Regions from separate parts of the Homo sapiens genome. Here region 2 is linked to region 1. The links come from fine-mapping of genetic effects on gene expression. Tissue or cell type: whole blood. Region 1 holds a variant in brackets; the other region holds the start of a gene. All regions are shown on one strand. Distances are from middle to middle.

Region 1 (8,105 bases):
CTTTTTAAAACTTGCTGTGTCTTTCACCTGGGCCACACCCTACGCCCACCCACCCCCTCTCAGCCAAAAGGGAGGTAAAAAATCCTGCGGGCCCAGCTGGGGGTGGGGAAGGGGCCCACAGTCCCGCTGGAAAACCTCAGCGGCCACCTCCCGGATCCGGGCTGGCCTGGGGACTGGGGTGGGATGGGGTGGGGTCCGCCTCAGGCCGACCCCGCAGAACCGAAAGTGCCGAGTTGACACGTAAGGCCCAGCCCCTCTGCGGCCGCCCGCGCGCCCGGCCTGTCACGCGTGGGGACACTGAGCAGCAGGCATCGGAGCGAGCAGTACAAAAAGAAATCAAGGCGTTGGGCGCGAAACCTCGACGCGCCTCTAAAGGAACGTTGAGAAAAGGCAGGGAGCAGGGCGCGCGGCCGGGGGATTGCATCATTGCGGCTCCCCCTCCAGAAAACGGGCCCCGAACCGCGGCGACCATCATGGCGCTCGCGCCGGGCTGCGCTCCCCGCGCGCCTGCCCCGCGCTCCGGCCGCGGCCCCGGAGCCTCGGACGCGCATTTCACAAACATTCTCGCCCTCTCCCGAGCGCCCGCCCCCACCCCCTCCTTCTTTCTGTGTGTGTGTGCGTACGTGTGTGCGTGTGTGCGCGCGCGTATTTGTGTGTAGGGAGAACTTGCAGATGATTTTTTTTTTCCCTCCCGTGCTGCTGGTTGTAAACTTGATTGGCATTGGCTGCGCCCACTGACCCCGACGCTGAGTCCGCTGAAGATTTAAGGTGGATCCGAGAAGCTGCAGCTTCAGGCGGAGTCTCGCGCTCTAGTCGGTTTTGGGAAGAGAAAAAAAAAAAAAAAAGCCCCGAACCGGGCGCCCGCCGCGTTTGCCGAATCTCCCGCGGCCCCAGCCCCCGCGCCCGCCCGGGGCCCCTCCCCGCCTCGCGCGCCGCGCGCGGCCTCCGCCCACCTCCCACTTCTTCCCCATTGGCCGGCGCGTGCAGTTTGAATTTTTTTTTTTTTTTGATGCTTGTTTTCTTGTAAAAAATACAGTCCCCCAGATCGTGTGACGAAACCTGCTTCGGCGGCCCGAGGTGGGGGTTTTGAGTCGGTTAGTGGAGGCAGTGGGAGCAGGATGGGCGGAGCTTCTGTTCCAAAAATTTCCCCTAAGTGCGGTTGACAGTGTGCAGGCAGGCGGGGGTGCGCGGGGCGGTCAGCGATCTGCAGCTTCGCGGGGACAGAGATGTAACCCAACTCGTTCACGGATGTTCCGCGCGCCGTGTCACCGGCTGCGGGCCAGGGGTACTCGGAAGGCGCGGGCAGGAGCCTGGCGAGGATGCACCTTCCCCTGCCTTGGAAAGGTAGAACTGGGGAGTGCGGGAGGGTGGAGGTGGCCCGGAAAAGAACACCTCTTCGCAACCAAAAAAAAAAAAAAAAAAAAAAAAGAGGAAATAGAGGAAAAATGTGTTATTTCAACCGCCACTCAGAACCCATCATAATTCAGCCAGTCGGTGTCATTTTTATTGAATTAAATTTTAAAAAAGTTTTCTTTGATTTCCAGAGCGTTTTTGCGGGAGGAATATGTTAAAACAAACTCAAGATACGAAATGAGACTTTTGAAGTGCCTTTGATTTCTGGGTACGGAAATTCTTTTGATAAAGCGTGTGTACGTTAAGATTTAGGATGACTTTTTTTTTCTTTTTTGTAATACAGGTCTAATGGAAATGACATTCTTTATGAATTAGAACCCAATTATGTTTTAAAGTTTATAATAAGTCAAATGATTCTCTCAGTCCCTATGTCCGTATTAGTGAAATTCTATCTCCATATTAGCGAAATTTGCATAGATACACACCTTTTTCTTTTTGTCTTTTAGTCTTGCTGCAGTGTATCGGACGAGTTTAACCAGATATCCAGCACTAGCCTTCTAACAGTTTCTAACTCAGTGGTGACATTTTTTAGTTCTTAACTCCCCCAATCCTTCTTAGCCTAACAAACCTCTTAATTAAGGTCCATGAAAGACCATAAACCAACCTGATTATGCCTTTAGCAAGGCTGTGTTCACTTAATCTCTAATCCCATATCATAAAAGTCCGCTAGTCACTCCTGACCTCCAGGAACCCACCTAACCAGGGTGGACACTATAAGAAAACATGTGTTTTAATGGAATGAGAACTTTTTTGAGTTGAAGACACGCTAGCCTCAGGAAGCAGTGAGCTCACCATCCCTGGAGTGTGAGTCAAGCACTAGTCTTGGATGACCCCTTGATAGGAACGTTGTAGACAAGATTCAAATATCAAATAGTATTTGGACTAGTGATTTCAAAGTCTATTCCAGACCCCTGTGAAACTGTATTTCCAACCTTGGCATTTCTGGATTTCCACTAAATTAAGCCACTTTCCTTGCTCATTAGCATCTTGTAGAGCTGTGTGGCTATTTGAGCGCTTGAATGTGGCTAGTCCAAATTGAGATGTGCTATATGAGATAAACACCACGTTTCCAAGAATTAGTATGAAGAGAAAATGTTAAATATTTCATTAATAATTTTAATATTGATTACCTATTGAAATAATATTTTGTCATATTGGGCTAAATAAAATATATTATTAAAATGAATTTCATCTATTCCATTTTACTTTTTTAGTGGAGTTACTAGACAATTTACAGATGTGTCTCAAATTATATTTCTATTGGACATTACTGTTCAAGACTATCACCTGTGGTAACTTGAGGCCCCATCTTTAAAAGTGGTGACTATTAATACTGAGGAGTAGGTGGTAACTTCTAGCTGCCATCCTAACTTCTCAAATTAAAGTGAGACCCAAACTCAGCCTCTGAAAGCTTTATTATTTATTTATTTATTTATTCTTCTTCTTATTTTTTTTAAAAGATAGAGTCTCCCTGTCATCCAGGCTGGAGTGCAGTGGTGTGGTCATGTCTCACTGCAACCTCCAACTCCTGGGCTCATGCAATCCTCCCAACTCAGCCTCCAGAATCACTGCAATTACATGTGTGCTCTGAAACCTTTTTTTTTTTTTTTTTTAACTTTGTAGAGAGTCTTGCTGCGTTGCCCAGGCTGGTCTTGAACTTCTGGCCTCAAATGATTCTCCTGCCTTGGCCTCCCAAAGTGCTGAGATGACAGGCATGAGCCACCATACCTAGCATCTCTGAAACCTTTAAATAGAATTCTGCCAACATCTAACACCTACTGTTTAATCTTTAATTAATTAATTAATTAATTTTTCTTTTAAAGACAGGTCTCACTCTGTCACACAGGCTGGAGTGCAGTGGGCATGAGCATGGCTCACTGCAGCCTCAAGCTCCTGGGCTCAGGAGATCCTCTACTTCAGCCTCCCATGTAGCTGGACTACAGATGTGTGCCACCACATCCAGCAGTTTTTTTTTTACTTTTGTAGAGATGGGGTCTTGCTATGTTGACCAGGCTGGTATTGAATGCCTGACTTCAAGGAATCCTCACACCTTGGCCTCCCAAAGTGGTGGGATTACAGGTGTGAGCCACTGAGCCCAGCCTGTTTAATACTTAATGTAGGGTTCAAGCCCAGACTATGGGAATATAGTATAGATATGTCTGATGAACTCAGACTTGGTCACCACAGCTTTTCACATTATGGCAATAGGAAGACTGGAGGCCGGACACATTGGCTTACACCTGTAATCCGCACACTTTGGGAGGCTGAGGCGGGCAGATCGCTTGAACTCAGGAGTTCTGGACCAGCCTGGGCAACATGGTGAAACCCCGTTTCTACAAAAAACAAAAAAAAATTTAACCAGGTGTGGTGGTGCTGCCTGTAGTCCCAGCTACTCAGGAAGCTGAGGTGGGAGGATTGCTTGAGCCTGGAAGGCTGAGGTTGCAGTGAGCCGAGATCATGCCACTGCATGCTGGCCTGGGCAACAGTGAGACCCTGTCTCAAAAAAAAAAAAAAAAAAAAAAAAAAGAGAGAGAAAGAAAAGAAAGAAAGAGAAAGATTGGAAACTCCAATATGTTAGTTGTGACTCTGCCAAAAAAAACTATTTAGACCCCACACAAAACCTGCACAGGCAGAGCCTCACTGCGACTCTTCAGGAGATAGGAAGAAAGTGGGGAGACAGAGCAGTATGCTCATTCTAAGATTGGGTCTCTAGCAGAAGCCTGCACAATGAAAAAGTATACCATATTCTTGGATGGGAACACCCAACATGACAAAGATGGCAGTCCTCCCTAATTCATCTGCACCTCTTTACACTAAATTCTGATAATAGGTTCTGATCATCCTGTTTCGTTCCTTTGTTGTAGCAGTCTGTCCACTCAGGACCATAATATAATTACTGTAAATTTGGAATATGTTTGAATTGCTGGTGGGCCGAGTCCTCCACATCTCGATGGGTCCCTTTACTCCTTTTTTTCCCCCAGAATGTTCCTGTTTTCTTTTGCTTGCCATTTTCCCCATGTGGATTTAAAATGAATTTGTCTAGTTTTAAATATAATTCTGTCGGCATTAAAAAAAAAAATAAAGTGGGATTCTTATCTCACACATCAGGATAAATTCCTGAAGAATTAAAGAGGATGAAGTAGAAAGAAATGAAACCATAGACATGCAAGGAGAAACCTCAAAGGATTTTTAAAAAAATCTCAGAGTTGGGGAAAGACTTTCTGAGTA[C/T]GACAATAAACATAGAATTCATAAGATGTAATTTTTTTTTCTTTTTGGTAGAGACAGGATCTCTCTACGTTGCCTAGGCTGGTCTTGAACGCCTGGCCTCAAGTGATACTCCTGCCTTGGTCTCCAAAAGTGTTGAGATTACAGTTGTGAGCCACTGTGCTCAGCTGGGAGGAGCTCTTGCGGCCAGGATTTTAAGACCAGCTTGGACAACGTAGCAAGACCTGTTTCTAAAAAATAAAAATAAATAGTTAAGCTATTCTGGAGGCTGAGGCAAGGGGATTGCTCTATCCCAGGAGTTCAGGGCCGCAGCTCAGGCTACAGTGAGCTATGATTTTACTACTGCACTCCAGCCTGGCAGCTCTAAAAAAATAAAATAATAATAATAATAATATAAAAATAATTTAAAAAGCAATGGTTTAAATGGTAATTTGTATCTTACTTGTATTTAACCACAATAAAAAAGAATATACAACTACTGGGACATTTTTTTTTGAGACCAGGTCTCACTCTGTTACCTAGGCTGGAGTGCAATGACTCATTGCAGCCTCGACCTCCTGGGCTCAAGTGATCCCCCTGCCTTAGCCTCCCAAGTAGCTAGGGCTGTAGGTGCACACCACCATGCCCAGCTAACTTTGTGTGTGTGTGTGTGTGTGTGTGTGTGTGTGTGTGTGTGTGTGTGTGTGTGAGAGAGAGAGAGAGAGAGACAGACAGGTTCTTGCTATGTTGTCCAGGCTGGTATTGAACTCCTAGTCTCAAGTGATCTTCCTGCCTTAGCCTCCCAAAGTGCTGAAATTACAGGCATGAGCCATCATGCCTGGCTCACTGGAAAAATTTAAAGTTCATCCATGGTATGTCTAAAAGAATCTCACACAGTGTACTGGGCCATATTATTTGTGAGATGCTGTAGTGGTTCAATTTCAGGCTCTGGAATCCTACTGCCTGGGTTTGAGTCCAGTTACTGAACTGCCATTTGCAAGTTACTTCACCTTTTAAAGATTTTATTTCGGCCAGGCATGGTGGCTCACACCTGTAATGCCAGCACTTTGGGAGGCCAGGGCGGGCAGATCACTTGAGGTCAGGAATTGGAGACCAGTCTGGACAACATGGTGAAACCCCATCTCTACTAAAAATACAAAAATTAGCCGGGCGTGGTGGCAGGCACCTGTAATCCCAGCTACTGGAGAGGCTGAGGCAGGAGAATCGCTTGAACCTGGGAGGCAGAGGTTGCAGTGAGCTGAGATCATGCCATTGTGCTCCAGCCTGGGGGACGAGATTGAGACTTCCTCTAAAAAAAAAAAAAAAAAAGAAAGAAAGAAAAAAGTTTTTTTTTTTTTTGTCTATATAATGAGGATGCTTATAACTCTCATAGGGTATTAAAAGTATTCGATGGAATAATGTATGTGTTGTATTTAGCCCAATACATGGTATATAATAATGACCATTACATATTTGTAAACAATCAAATTGGCCAGGCACAGTGGCTCACGCCTGTAATCCCAGCACTTTGGGAGGCCGAGGCAGGCGGATCACAAGGTCAGGAGATCGAGACCATCTTGGCTAACACGGTGAAACCCCGTCTCTACTAAAAATAAAAAAAATTAGCCGGGCGTGGTGGCGGGCGCCTGTAGTCCCAGCTACTCGGGAGGCTGAGGCAGGAGAATGGCGTGAACCCGGGAGGCGGAGCTTGCAGTGGGCCGAGATCGCACCACTGCACTCCAGCCTGGGCGACAGAGCAAGACGCCATCTCAAAAAAACAAACAAACAAACAAACAAAAAATCAAATTAATGGGGATATCCAGTTTTTATTTTGTCTTCTCCCAGTAACCACAGCCAGTACTATGTTAACCTTGTCAATATGTCTTATTATTTTTAATTACTGCTGATACTACCATTAAGAAAAACAAATATTTTAAATTGGCATTTAATAAAGAGAATTAGATATGCAAAAACAGTTAAAATGGTAAATTTTATGTATTTTTACCACAATAAAATCTTTTTAAGGCACTTGTTGAATTTAGTGTCACTTCCAATGATTTCTGAAAGGACTTGGTATAGATTTATTTGTGGTAATAAATCAGTAGCACATACACCCACATACATATGCAATGACAAATTGGGAAAAATGTTTGCAACCCACATATCACAGGGTTAATTTCCCCAATAAATAAAGAGTTTCTACAAATCCATGAAGAAAACACAAACCAGTAGAAAAATAAGCAAAGGATATGAACACAGTTATCGGAAAAGAAAATATGAAAGGCTTTTAATAAATGAAAACATGCTCAATTGTAGACTATTGGGATATAAACCATATACAGAATATATAAATATAGGGAAATTGAGGCACTCAGATACAAAGACGGCCATTATTCTTTCTTGACAGTTTAATCCTTGCTTCCCTCCTTTCTACCTAAGGGTTAGTGATATTTTTCCAGCTTCATTGGTGACCAAAGAAGCAAAGAGTTTGCATGCGTGGAAGCCACGACCGTCTTTCAGGTTCAGTGTAAAATCCCTCCCATCCAAATAATGTTATCTTTAGCTTAGTGGCATCTCCTTACTTTGTACATAGAAATCCCCCGAATCAGCCTCTTAAGGCCAGCACAACTATAAGTATGTAAGAGGCTGATGCTCTCAACACATCCCCATCCATTCCTGCTTTTAAGTTTAATGCCTGTACGTTGCTGGTGATACCAGTCTCTCCAAAACCATCACCTTATTCTGGCTTTTCGTTCAAGCTCTCTATTCTCTTTTAAAAGCCTCATGAAGAGTTGATTACATGATAAACATAAATTGTCTAATTAGTAGAGAGAAACTATGCTATGCAATAAATGGTGTTAGGTTACAGCTAACCGTTTGGAGAAAAATATTAAATCTCCCTTACATACACACACATTTTATATACTGCGCATTTAAAATGTATGTACTTTTCAGCTGGGCGCCGTGATTGTTAATTACTGCTGTTATTACCGTTAAGAAAAATAAATATTTTAAATTGGCATTTAATAAAGAGATTCAAATATGCAAAAACAGTTAAAATGGTTTGGTCTTAATGTGTTATGGAAACTTTACACCTGTAATCCCAGGACTTTGGGAGGCTGAGGCGAGAGGATCACTTGAGGTCAGGAGTTTGAGACCAGCCTGGCCAACATGGCGAAACCCCGTCTCTACTAAAAGTACAAAAATTAGCCAGGTGTGGTGGTGCATGCCTGTGATCCCATCTACTTGGGAGGCTGAGGCAGGAGAATCGCTTAAACCTGGGAGGCGGAGGTTGAAGTGAGCAGAGATTACACTACTGCACTCCACTCCAGCCTAGGCAACAGAGTGAGACTCTGTCTCAAAAAAAAAAAAAAAAGAAAAGAAAAAAGAAAAAGAAAAAGCATGTACTTTTCTACGAATTTAATTTTGAGAAATAATCAGACGTATGACTAAAGATATATTTATCAAAGTAATCACTATAATGTTAA
Region 2 (8,105 bases), 58 kb after region 1:
CATCAAGAGTTTAACACAGTGACAACTTGTCTCTACAAAAAGTCAAAAAATAAGGCAGGAGGATTGCTTGATCTCAGGAGGTCAAGGCTGCGGTGAGGCGTGATGGTGCCATTGCACTCCCACTTGAGTGACAGAGTGAGACCCTGCCTCAACAAAACAAAACAAAACAAAAAAAGAGTTGAACAGATCTGAAGGCTAGTTTGAAGGCCAACTACCATTTTCAGTGTAGTCTCTCTAGGGTGATGTGTTGGAAGTGCCCAACAAACAATTTAAAAGAGAAGTCTGAGGATGTGGTCCACAGATTTTTTTTTGTGGAAACTGACCACACAGAACTTTTGAACAAAATGCCTTCATTTGTTCCTAAAATTTGTTATTGTGTCTTTACTATATGAAATTAAACAAATGCTGGCTGGGCATGGTGGCTCATGCCTGTAATCCCAGCACTTTGGGAGGCTGGGGCAGGTGGATCACCCGGGGTCAGGAGTTCGAGACCAGCCTGTCCAACATGGCGAAACCCCGTCTCTACTAAAAATACAAAAATTAGCCAGGTGTAGTGGTGCACGCCTGTAATCCCAGCTTCTCGGGAGGCTGAGGCAGGAGAATTGCTTGAATCTGGGAGGCGGAGATTGCAGTGAGCTGAGATCATGCCACTGTACTCTAGCCTGGGCGACAGACTGAGACGCCGTCTCAAAAATAAATAAATAAATAAAAGTAAACAAATGCTGAATTGAATCGCTAAGTTCAAGTGTCAGTTCTTATAAACAAGGTGAAGTACCAGTTGGGTTTTTTGTTTGTTTGTTTGTTTGTTTTTGGAGACAGAGTTTTACTCCGTTACCCAGGCTGGAGTGCAGCGGTGTGATCTCGGCTCACTGCAACTGCTGCCTCCCAGGTTCAAGTGATCCTCCTGCCTCAGTCTCCTGAGTAGCTGGGACTACAGGAGCACGCCACCACACACAGCTGTTTTTTTTGTATTTTTAGTAGAGACGGGGTCTTACCATGTTGGTCAGGCTGGTCTCGAACTCCTGACCTCAGGTGATCCACCAGCCTTAGCCTCCCAAAGTGCTGGGATTACAGGGGTGAGCCACTGCACCCGGCCCCAGTTGGTTTTTTTTTGTTTTTTTTTTTTTTGCTTTTTTTTTGAGACAAGGTCTCTATCATCCAGGCTGTGTTGCAGTGGTACCATTATAGCTCACTGCAGCCTTGACCTCCTGGGTGCAAGTGATCCTCCTGCCTCAGCGTCCTGAATAGCTAGGACTACAGGTGTGAGTCACTATGCCCGGCCAATTTTTAAATTTTTTGTAAAGATGGGGTCTCATTATGTCAACCAGGCTGGTCTCGAACTCCTGACTTCAAGCGACCCTCCCTCCTCTGCCTCCCAAAGTGCTGGGATTATAGGCATGGGCCACCATGACTGGCCAAAGTACCAGGTTTTTATGGGCAGTAAAACTTTAGCCCAAACTGTCAATTAACTCAATTTTTTTTGCCTCCATAAAGAGGCAAATACAAAGAAAATGGGCTTTCAACACAGAGAAAAACAAATTCCAAGATATGGGCTGAGGTCAGTATACACGCTGTCTATTTTCCTCTACCTTCTGGTTCTTCATCCCACCTCTGTACTATGATATTGATGCTCTGAGGAAGACCCTGTATCCCAGCAATATTCCTCATCTATAAAATAAAGATTTAATTGTGTTCCTCTAAACCCAAAACACACAGGATGATGTCCAGGGAAGTTAGAGGAACATGTGTCAGCTGAAGAATCAGTGGTATGTTCCCTCTTGTCTACCTCCCCAATTCGCGCTGGCCCACATCCCATTTGGAGTGACCATGTCTATGGAGATAGAGGAGGATATTCTTCCACTTCTAACCTCAAAAGGACACACTGGAGGCATCTAGATTGAGGTTACAGCTATCCTTTGAGGAGCTGTAACAAGAATATTTGGAAGTGGACCAAATCTAGAATAATCAAGTTTGAAAGGACTATGGTTGTCCTTTCTGTTGCTACTGTTGTTATACTGTGTTGATAAATACAAAGTATAGTCATAAAGGTGGGGGATTTAATCATGTTCCAGAATGATACGGCTGTTAAGGCTTTCCAGGTAAGCCAGAGAGTTGAGATAATCCTTATTCAAGTGAGAAACGAATTTGGCCCTCCTTATCTGGAGGAGAGGGTTAGAAGGACGATGGATGGATTTGGGGACATGTAGTAGGACTGAATTCCTAGGCTGAGCTCCAACCACCTCTGAATGCCCCAGAGATATCTATGTTCCATCTGGTCTGGTCTGCAGCAAGTCCACAGAAGCTACATTCACTTTTCTGTGCTGAATTATCAAAATAATTGCCCTTCAGCCCATGCCTCATGACCCTGTAGACAGAATCCACTCATTTCCCTATCACATGGGCTACAATTGCTACTTCAAATGAAAACCTGGGAAGCCAATGCCCTATTGTGGTTGAAAGTGTACAATTAGCTCCTCATGCAGCCTGACCCCACTGATTTTTCTGATGCATGTGACCTGGAGTGTGCCCTTTCTGAGACCGCCAATGTCTTCTCCACAGCTGGAGATGCCCAAAACTGCACGCAGCACTTCCTGTGGGTGTGGCCTTGCATTCTTAGGACTGCAGGGTACCCGCTGCATGCCAAATGATCCCAGGCTCCAGCCACTCACAGATTCACAACGCTTTTAAAAATACAGCAGTGGAGTATGAGCGGCTATGTCAGATATGAGGGTTTTCCACCCCCTCCCTTTTCTTTTAAAATATGATTTTGTAATGGTGGCCTCAAGAAACACTATAATTGGTCAGCCTGGGGTGCGTTTGAAGGCCTTCTCTATCGCGTCATTAGCTATTCTCAGGAAAGGCAGGGTATCCCACTGGGAGAATGACAACACACTTGTTTCAAGTTAGGGAAGAGCCTGTGGTTCTCTTCCTGCGTTCAGGGGAAAGCGAACACACAATGTTCGTTTCCTAAATACGGGATGTGCTGTGCTGGCAGGTCATTTTCCACCATGTCACGTCCTTCTAGATGAAGGCAGCAGGGGTCATGACAGGAAATGGCAAATTCTCAGAATGAGACAAGGCTTTCCCAGGGCAGCCATTGGTTCTCTGGAACTATAAAGCACACTCATCCAGAAACAGCCTCAGATTTTACTTTCCTGGAGGCAGACAGAAGTGAATGGTAAGTGGGGAACCCTGAGGCATATATTCGGGATGACTTTTTCTCATTTTCTCTTTTCACCTGGAAAATTATCCCTGGTGGGTTGGATTATGGAAGCATGGAAGTAAAATTAAGTCCTGTGAATAAGGAGATGAGGATTCTAGACTGGGCTCTGTGAAGAATCAGCTGCTTCTAGAATCTGATGTCTGATGCAGGCAATTCTTCCAGATGAGAATGATTTCTGCCCTGATAGCTCAGTTTTGAAATGCTCTATTTCTATGGCTCATTTGCCACTTTTAAGAAGTTCCTAATAATGAAGAGTACAGTGGACATGAAGGTGGGAATCTGCAACTAGGATGAATATACTTTTCCCCCAAGATGTACAACTTGTTCGTATCTTTGTCAGTCATCTTCAGTTGGCTTCAACGTGGTAGAAGTTGTTGAACAAAAATTTTGGCCACTTTATTTTATTCAACCATTACTCATTTTTAAAAGAAAACTTTCATAACAAAGAGACATAATGGTATTAATTTAATGTGACTTAGTTTAAATCAAGCACCCAGCAAAGACTGATGTTTCTGAAGATCCAAGGAGCCCTAGTTAGAATAAACAGTGCAAATCTCATTTTAGGCTTGATTCTAAGAAAAGAGCCTGGAAGAATCACAAGCAGAAGAGTTGCTTCAGGCAAGCATCTAACTTAGATGTTTCTTCTGCTTGGTAGAAAATACGATTTTTGAGGTTTTGGTGAAGTCTTTTTCATTCATTAGAGAGAGAGAAAAGTGTGTTGCAAAACTCCTAGGATCCAATTTTCACATGATGAAAGGGCTTTGTAAACTGTACAACCCACCACTTACAAAGTGTTATCTTAAGTAGAGCAAAGGCCTCAGTACTGGAGAAGCCTTCTAATACCACGCCCCTCCCAGTTTAAATCTTATTTAACACATAGCTGATGAAGCCCATCGTTAACGTTCCCTGGGAGAGAAGCAGAAGATAGCATTATTCCTATTTCCATATGCAGAGATAAGGTCCTGAGAACTTGTGTGGCTCCCCCCGGATTCCAGAACAGGTCTTTGAGAACTCGTCTCATGATCCACTGGAAACAGACCCGTTCCCCTAGCGTGGCAGTGGCTGCTCCGCTGAACTCGTGCCAAGTTCCCGCTGGCGTCCGGGCAGCAGGGCGGGAGCGGCGGCTGGCACGGAGACTCCAGGCTGACCGCGTGTCTATGTCCCCGCAGGGAATGGAGAGGCCGGCGGCCCGGGAGCCGCATGGGCCCGACGCGCTGCGGCGCTTCCAGGGACTGCTGCTGGACCGCCGAGGCCGGCTGCACGGCCAGGTGCTGCGCCTGCGCGAGGTGGCCCGGCGCCTGGAGCGCCTGCGCAGGCGCTCCCTCGTAGCCAACGTGGCCGGCAGCTCGCTGAGCGCAACGGGCGCCCTCGCCGCCATCGTGGGGCTCTCGCTCAGCCCGGTCACCCTGGGGACCTCGCTGCTGGTGTCGGCCGTGGGGCTGGGGGTGGCCACAGCCGGAGGGGCCGTCACCATCACGTCCGATCTCTCGCTGATCTTCTGCAACTCCCGGGAGCTGCGGAGGGTGCAGGAGATCGCGGCCACCTGCCAGGACCAGATGCGAGAGATCCTGAGCTGCCTCGAGTTTTTCTGCCGCTGGCAGGGCTGCGGGGACCGCCAGCTGCTGCAGTGCGGGAGGAACGCCTCCATCGCCCTGTACAATTCTGTCTACTTCATCGTCTTCTTTGGCTCACGTGGCTTCCTCATCCCCAGGCGGGCGGAGGGGGACACCAAGGTTAGCCAGGCCGTGCTGAAGGCCAAGATTCAGAAACTGGCCGAGAGCCTGGAGTCCTGCACCGGGGCTCTGGACGAACTCAGCGAGCAGCTGGAGTCTCGGGTTCAGCTCTGCACCAAGTCCAGTCGTGGCCACGACCTCAAGATCTCTGCTGACCAGCGTGCAGGGCTGTTTTTCTGAGAACATCCTTTCCCCCTAATGACCGAGGCCAGCAAATCATCCTCATGGGATGCTCCAGAATTTGTAGCTCCCTTAGGAAAACACCAAGCTGGGTTAGGAGCCGAAGGCAAAGGATGAGAAAAACTGTTTTTGAAGTGGGCAGGTCCCCAAAGCCCTTCTTTTCCCATCACTGTGACATCTGCCTGGGCTTGAGTGCTACGGACTTTTCAGTCTTCCTAGTGGAAAAATGTGACCCAAAAACTCTTTTTCCTTTATCAAAAACTTTCTGTCTAAACACAGCTGGGCAGGCACTCCTGTTTTAAAGTTATTTCGGGGTCCCTGACCCTGCCCTGGTGGCTTGGCCTGAGACTGGAGAGAGTGCCATCCTCTGGGTCCTCTCCAAGTCCTACTAGTCTTTGAAGTCCTCAAAATGTGCGTGAGGAAGGCGTTTGCCTCTATTCCAGAATTTCTGATACAAAGAACTCCAGAATCCAGAGCAAATCAGCCCTTCTCTGAACGTTGTAGGATGGTTCAGAACCCAGAGAGGACCCTGGTGCTGATATCTCCTCCTCTTCCCTTTCCCCTCAGCTTACTTACTCCCAGATGCGGCCTGGGTATGAAGTAGGCCTTTCCTGAGTGGCTCCCAATCCAGTCCTCCAAGTACTCAGAGGGGAAGCCCGTGAAGCCGTCATCTAAGTCCTGCTCCCTCACATGAAGCTGAGGGCCAGATAGATGGAGCGACTGCCAACTTCATTTCCCGACATCATTGTGTTCAGAAGAGAGTGATGGGTTTTGAGTTAGACAGTCCTGGGCTTGAGACAGGCTTTGTCACTACTGTGTGAGTGTAGCCACCTAATCTCTCTGAGACTGTGTAAAACAAAGATGATAAAATCTCACCCTGTTGTGAGATATTAAATGAGCCAAAGTGCCTAGCATGATGGTGCTGGCTCATATAGTGTAGTCCCTGGAATGGCAAATTAACATCACCCAGGAACTTGTTAGAAAGGCAAATTCTTGGACACAACCCTCCTGATTTATGGAATCAGAAACTCTGGCTGTGGGGCCCAGCAACCTGAGTTTAAACAATTTCTCTGGGTGGTTCTGCGGCACACTAAGGTTTGAAAATCACTGCAACAAATGCTAACTTCTAATCCCCTTGATGAGCTTTCACGAAGTCTCACGGCTTCTCTAGGGACTCCATGGTCTTCAGAGTCGTTCACAGATGACCAAGGACAGACTGTGTCCCAGAAGCCAAAATGAGAGAGAGAGAGAGAGAGCACGCGTACGTGCACCCTGGGGCAGTGTCTCACCGTATGAACAAGGGATGTAACACTAAAAGCCCATTAGGGGGCAGTGTTTCCCGCCTGTTGTAGAAACTGGTACAGAAAGGAATATGAAGTTCCTGAAACTGACCTTTGTCTATTATTACCTTCTCTGAAAAGTGCCAGTCCATGTATTTTTTATTTATTTTAAGTTTGTAATTTAATTTTTAATTATTGTTTAGTGTTTGCATTTAATTTTATTTAATCACCACATTTAGAAAATAATAAGAGCAAGTTTCTAAATGGGAGACTGCTGAGGCTCTTTGCAAGAGATGAGATTAAGTTTGAGTTTCTAAGGCAGGGCATGAGCTGGAAATAGCATTGCTTTCCTTGATTGTCTCTCTCCTTCAGGGAGATTCTTTTTCTCTAGTGTTTTAAGTGATCCTTTGAAGTAAGTGTGGAGAGTCTTGAATGGCAAGACCAGGAGCTGAGTTTAAGCTTGTAATGGAAGCTTGCATTGTGGGATATATAACTGAGGAAGCATATTTATCCTGAAGGTATTTTGCCAGAAGGTATCACTTGACCTGGAAAAGGAATCTATTTAGTTCAGGAAAGATAAAAAGTTTAGAGGTATGTGAAGGAAGCACTTAGAACTTGCAAGCCTGATGTCCTATCAAGTTATGTCTTCTGGGTGACAGACAAAATCGCTTGTCTTATGGTGGTGATGTGTTGCATTTTCACTTTGGGGTCTGTAAGAAACTGTCAGTGAAAATATGTACAATTCCTTCAATTTCCATTCTTAACAACTGTAATGTTGAAAAATAAGTTGAAAAGTCTTTGGGACCATACATGCAAAAACGGTGCCTCTGTTACTTAATTATTTAATATTCTATAAATGTACCCAATCTGTCCGCACCCTTCCCAGTGATGGGGCAGTATGTCTGAGGAAGTATAATTTCAGTACTGGGGTCGGGGAGAGGAGGTGATGTTTCTACATTTTTATTTTTTCTATAAATTGCAATTGGTCTGTATGCTGGTTTATTTTGAAATTTATATTGGTTTCTTTTCAAGCTGGTGTCATCTCCTAGACTGTTTCACCCAGATGCTAGCATTTTTTTTTTTTTTTTGAGACAGAGTCTCACTCTGTCACCTAGGCTGGAGTTGCAGTGGTTTGATCTCGGCTCACTGCAACCTCCGACTCCTGGGTTCAAGCAATTCTTCTGCCTCAGCCTCCTGAGTAGCTGGGATTACAGATGTGCACCAGCACACCCGGCTAATTTTTTGTATTTTTAGTAGAGACAGGGTTTCGCCATGTTGGCCAGGCTGGTCTTGAACTCCTGGCCTTATGTGATCCGCCCACCTTGGCTTCCCAAAGTGCTGGGATTACAGGCATGAGCCACCTCGCCTGGCCAGATGCTAGCATTTTAGATCAAACAATTCATTTTAGATGAATTGTTTTGTTTCACAATCATTTTAAATCATTTTAGAATGTACTTCACATTATTAGTTGTGTTATGGCATAAAGGTACAACCATTCCCTAACTCCATCTTTTATTAATGCTTAAGTTTAAATTATATTCTTCCAATGCCTAAGCTATTCCCTAGAATTAAACTGGGCACTTTTGGAAGCAGCAACAGTAACAGCAGCAGCAAACTTTTCCTCTCATATTTTGGGTGTATCAAAAGTTCTAGACTTTTGAAGTTATGATTTCAGTGGCCCACTTTATT

The links. PIP is the estimated chance that this variant, and not a neighbour inherited with it, causes the effect.
Region 2: it holds the start of APOLD1, and the variant in region 1 is fine-mapped to the expression of APOLD1 in whole blood (INTERVAL, PIP 0.98).

Annotation. Positions count from the first base shown.
Region 1 is chr12:12,724,753-12,732,857 of GRCh38, forward strand. LOC105369663 (a long non-coding RNA gene) reads right to left here and starts at 371. Exons shown (of 2, transcript XR_931366.4): 1 at 1-371. It also overlaps a transcript of APOLD1 not described here. RefSeq lists silencers at 76-155, 496-745 and an enhancer at 1,126-1,395. The variant C/T (reference allele first, on the strand shown) is at 4,642.
Region 2 is chr12:12,782,517-12,790,621 of GRCh38, forward strand. It overlaps APOLD1 (apolipoprotein L domain containing 1), which reads left to right and starts at 3,143. Exons shown (of 2, transcript NM_030817.3): 1 at 3,143-3,178; 2 at 4,393-8,105. The coding sequence starts at 3,176. The coding sequence ends at 5,136. RefSeq lists silencers at 4,430-4,529, 4,560-4,669.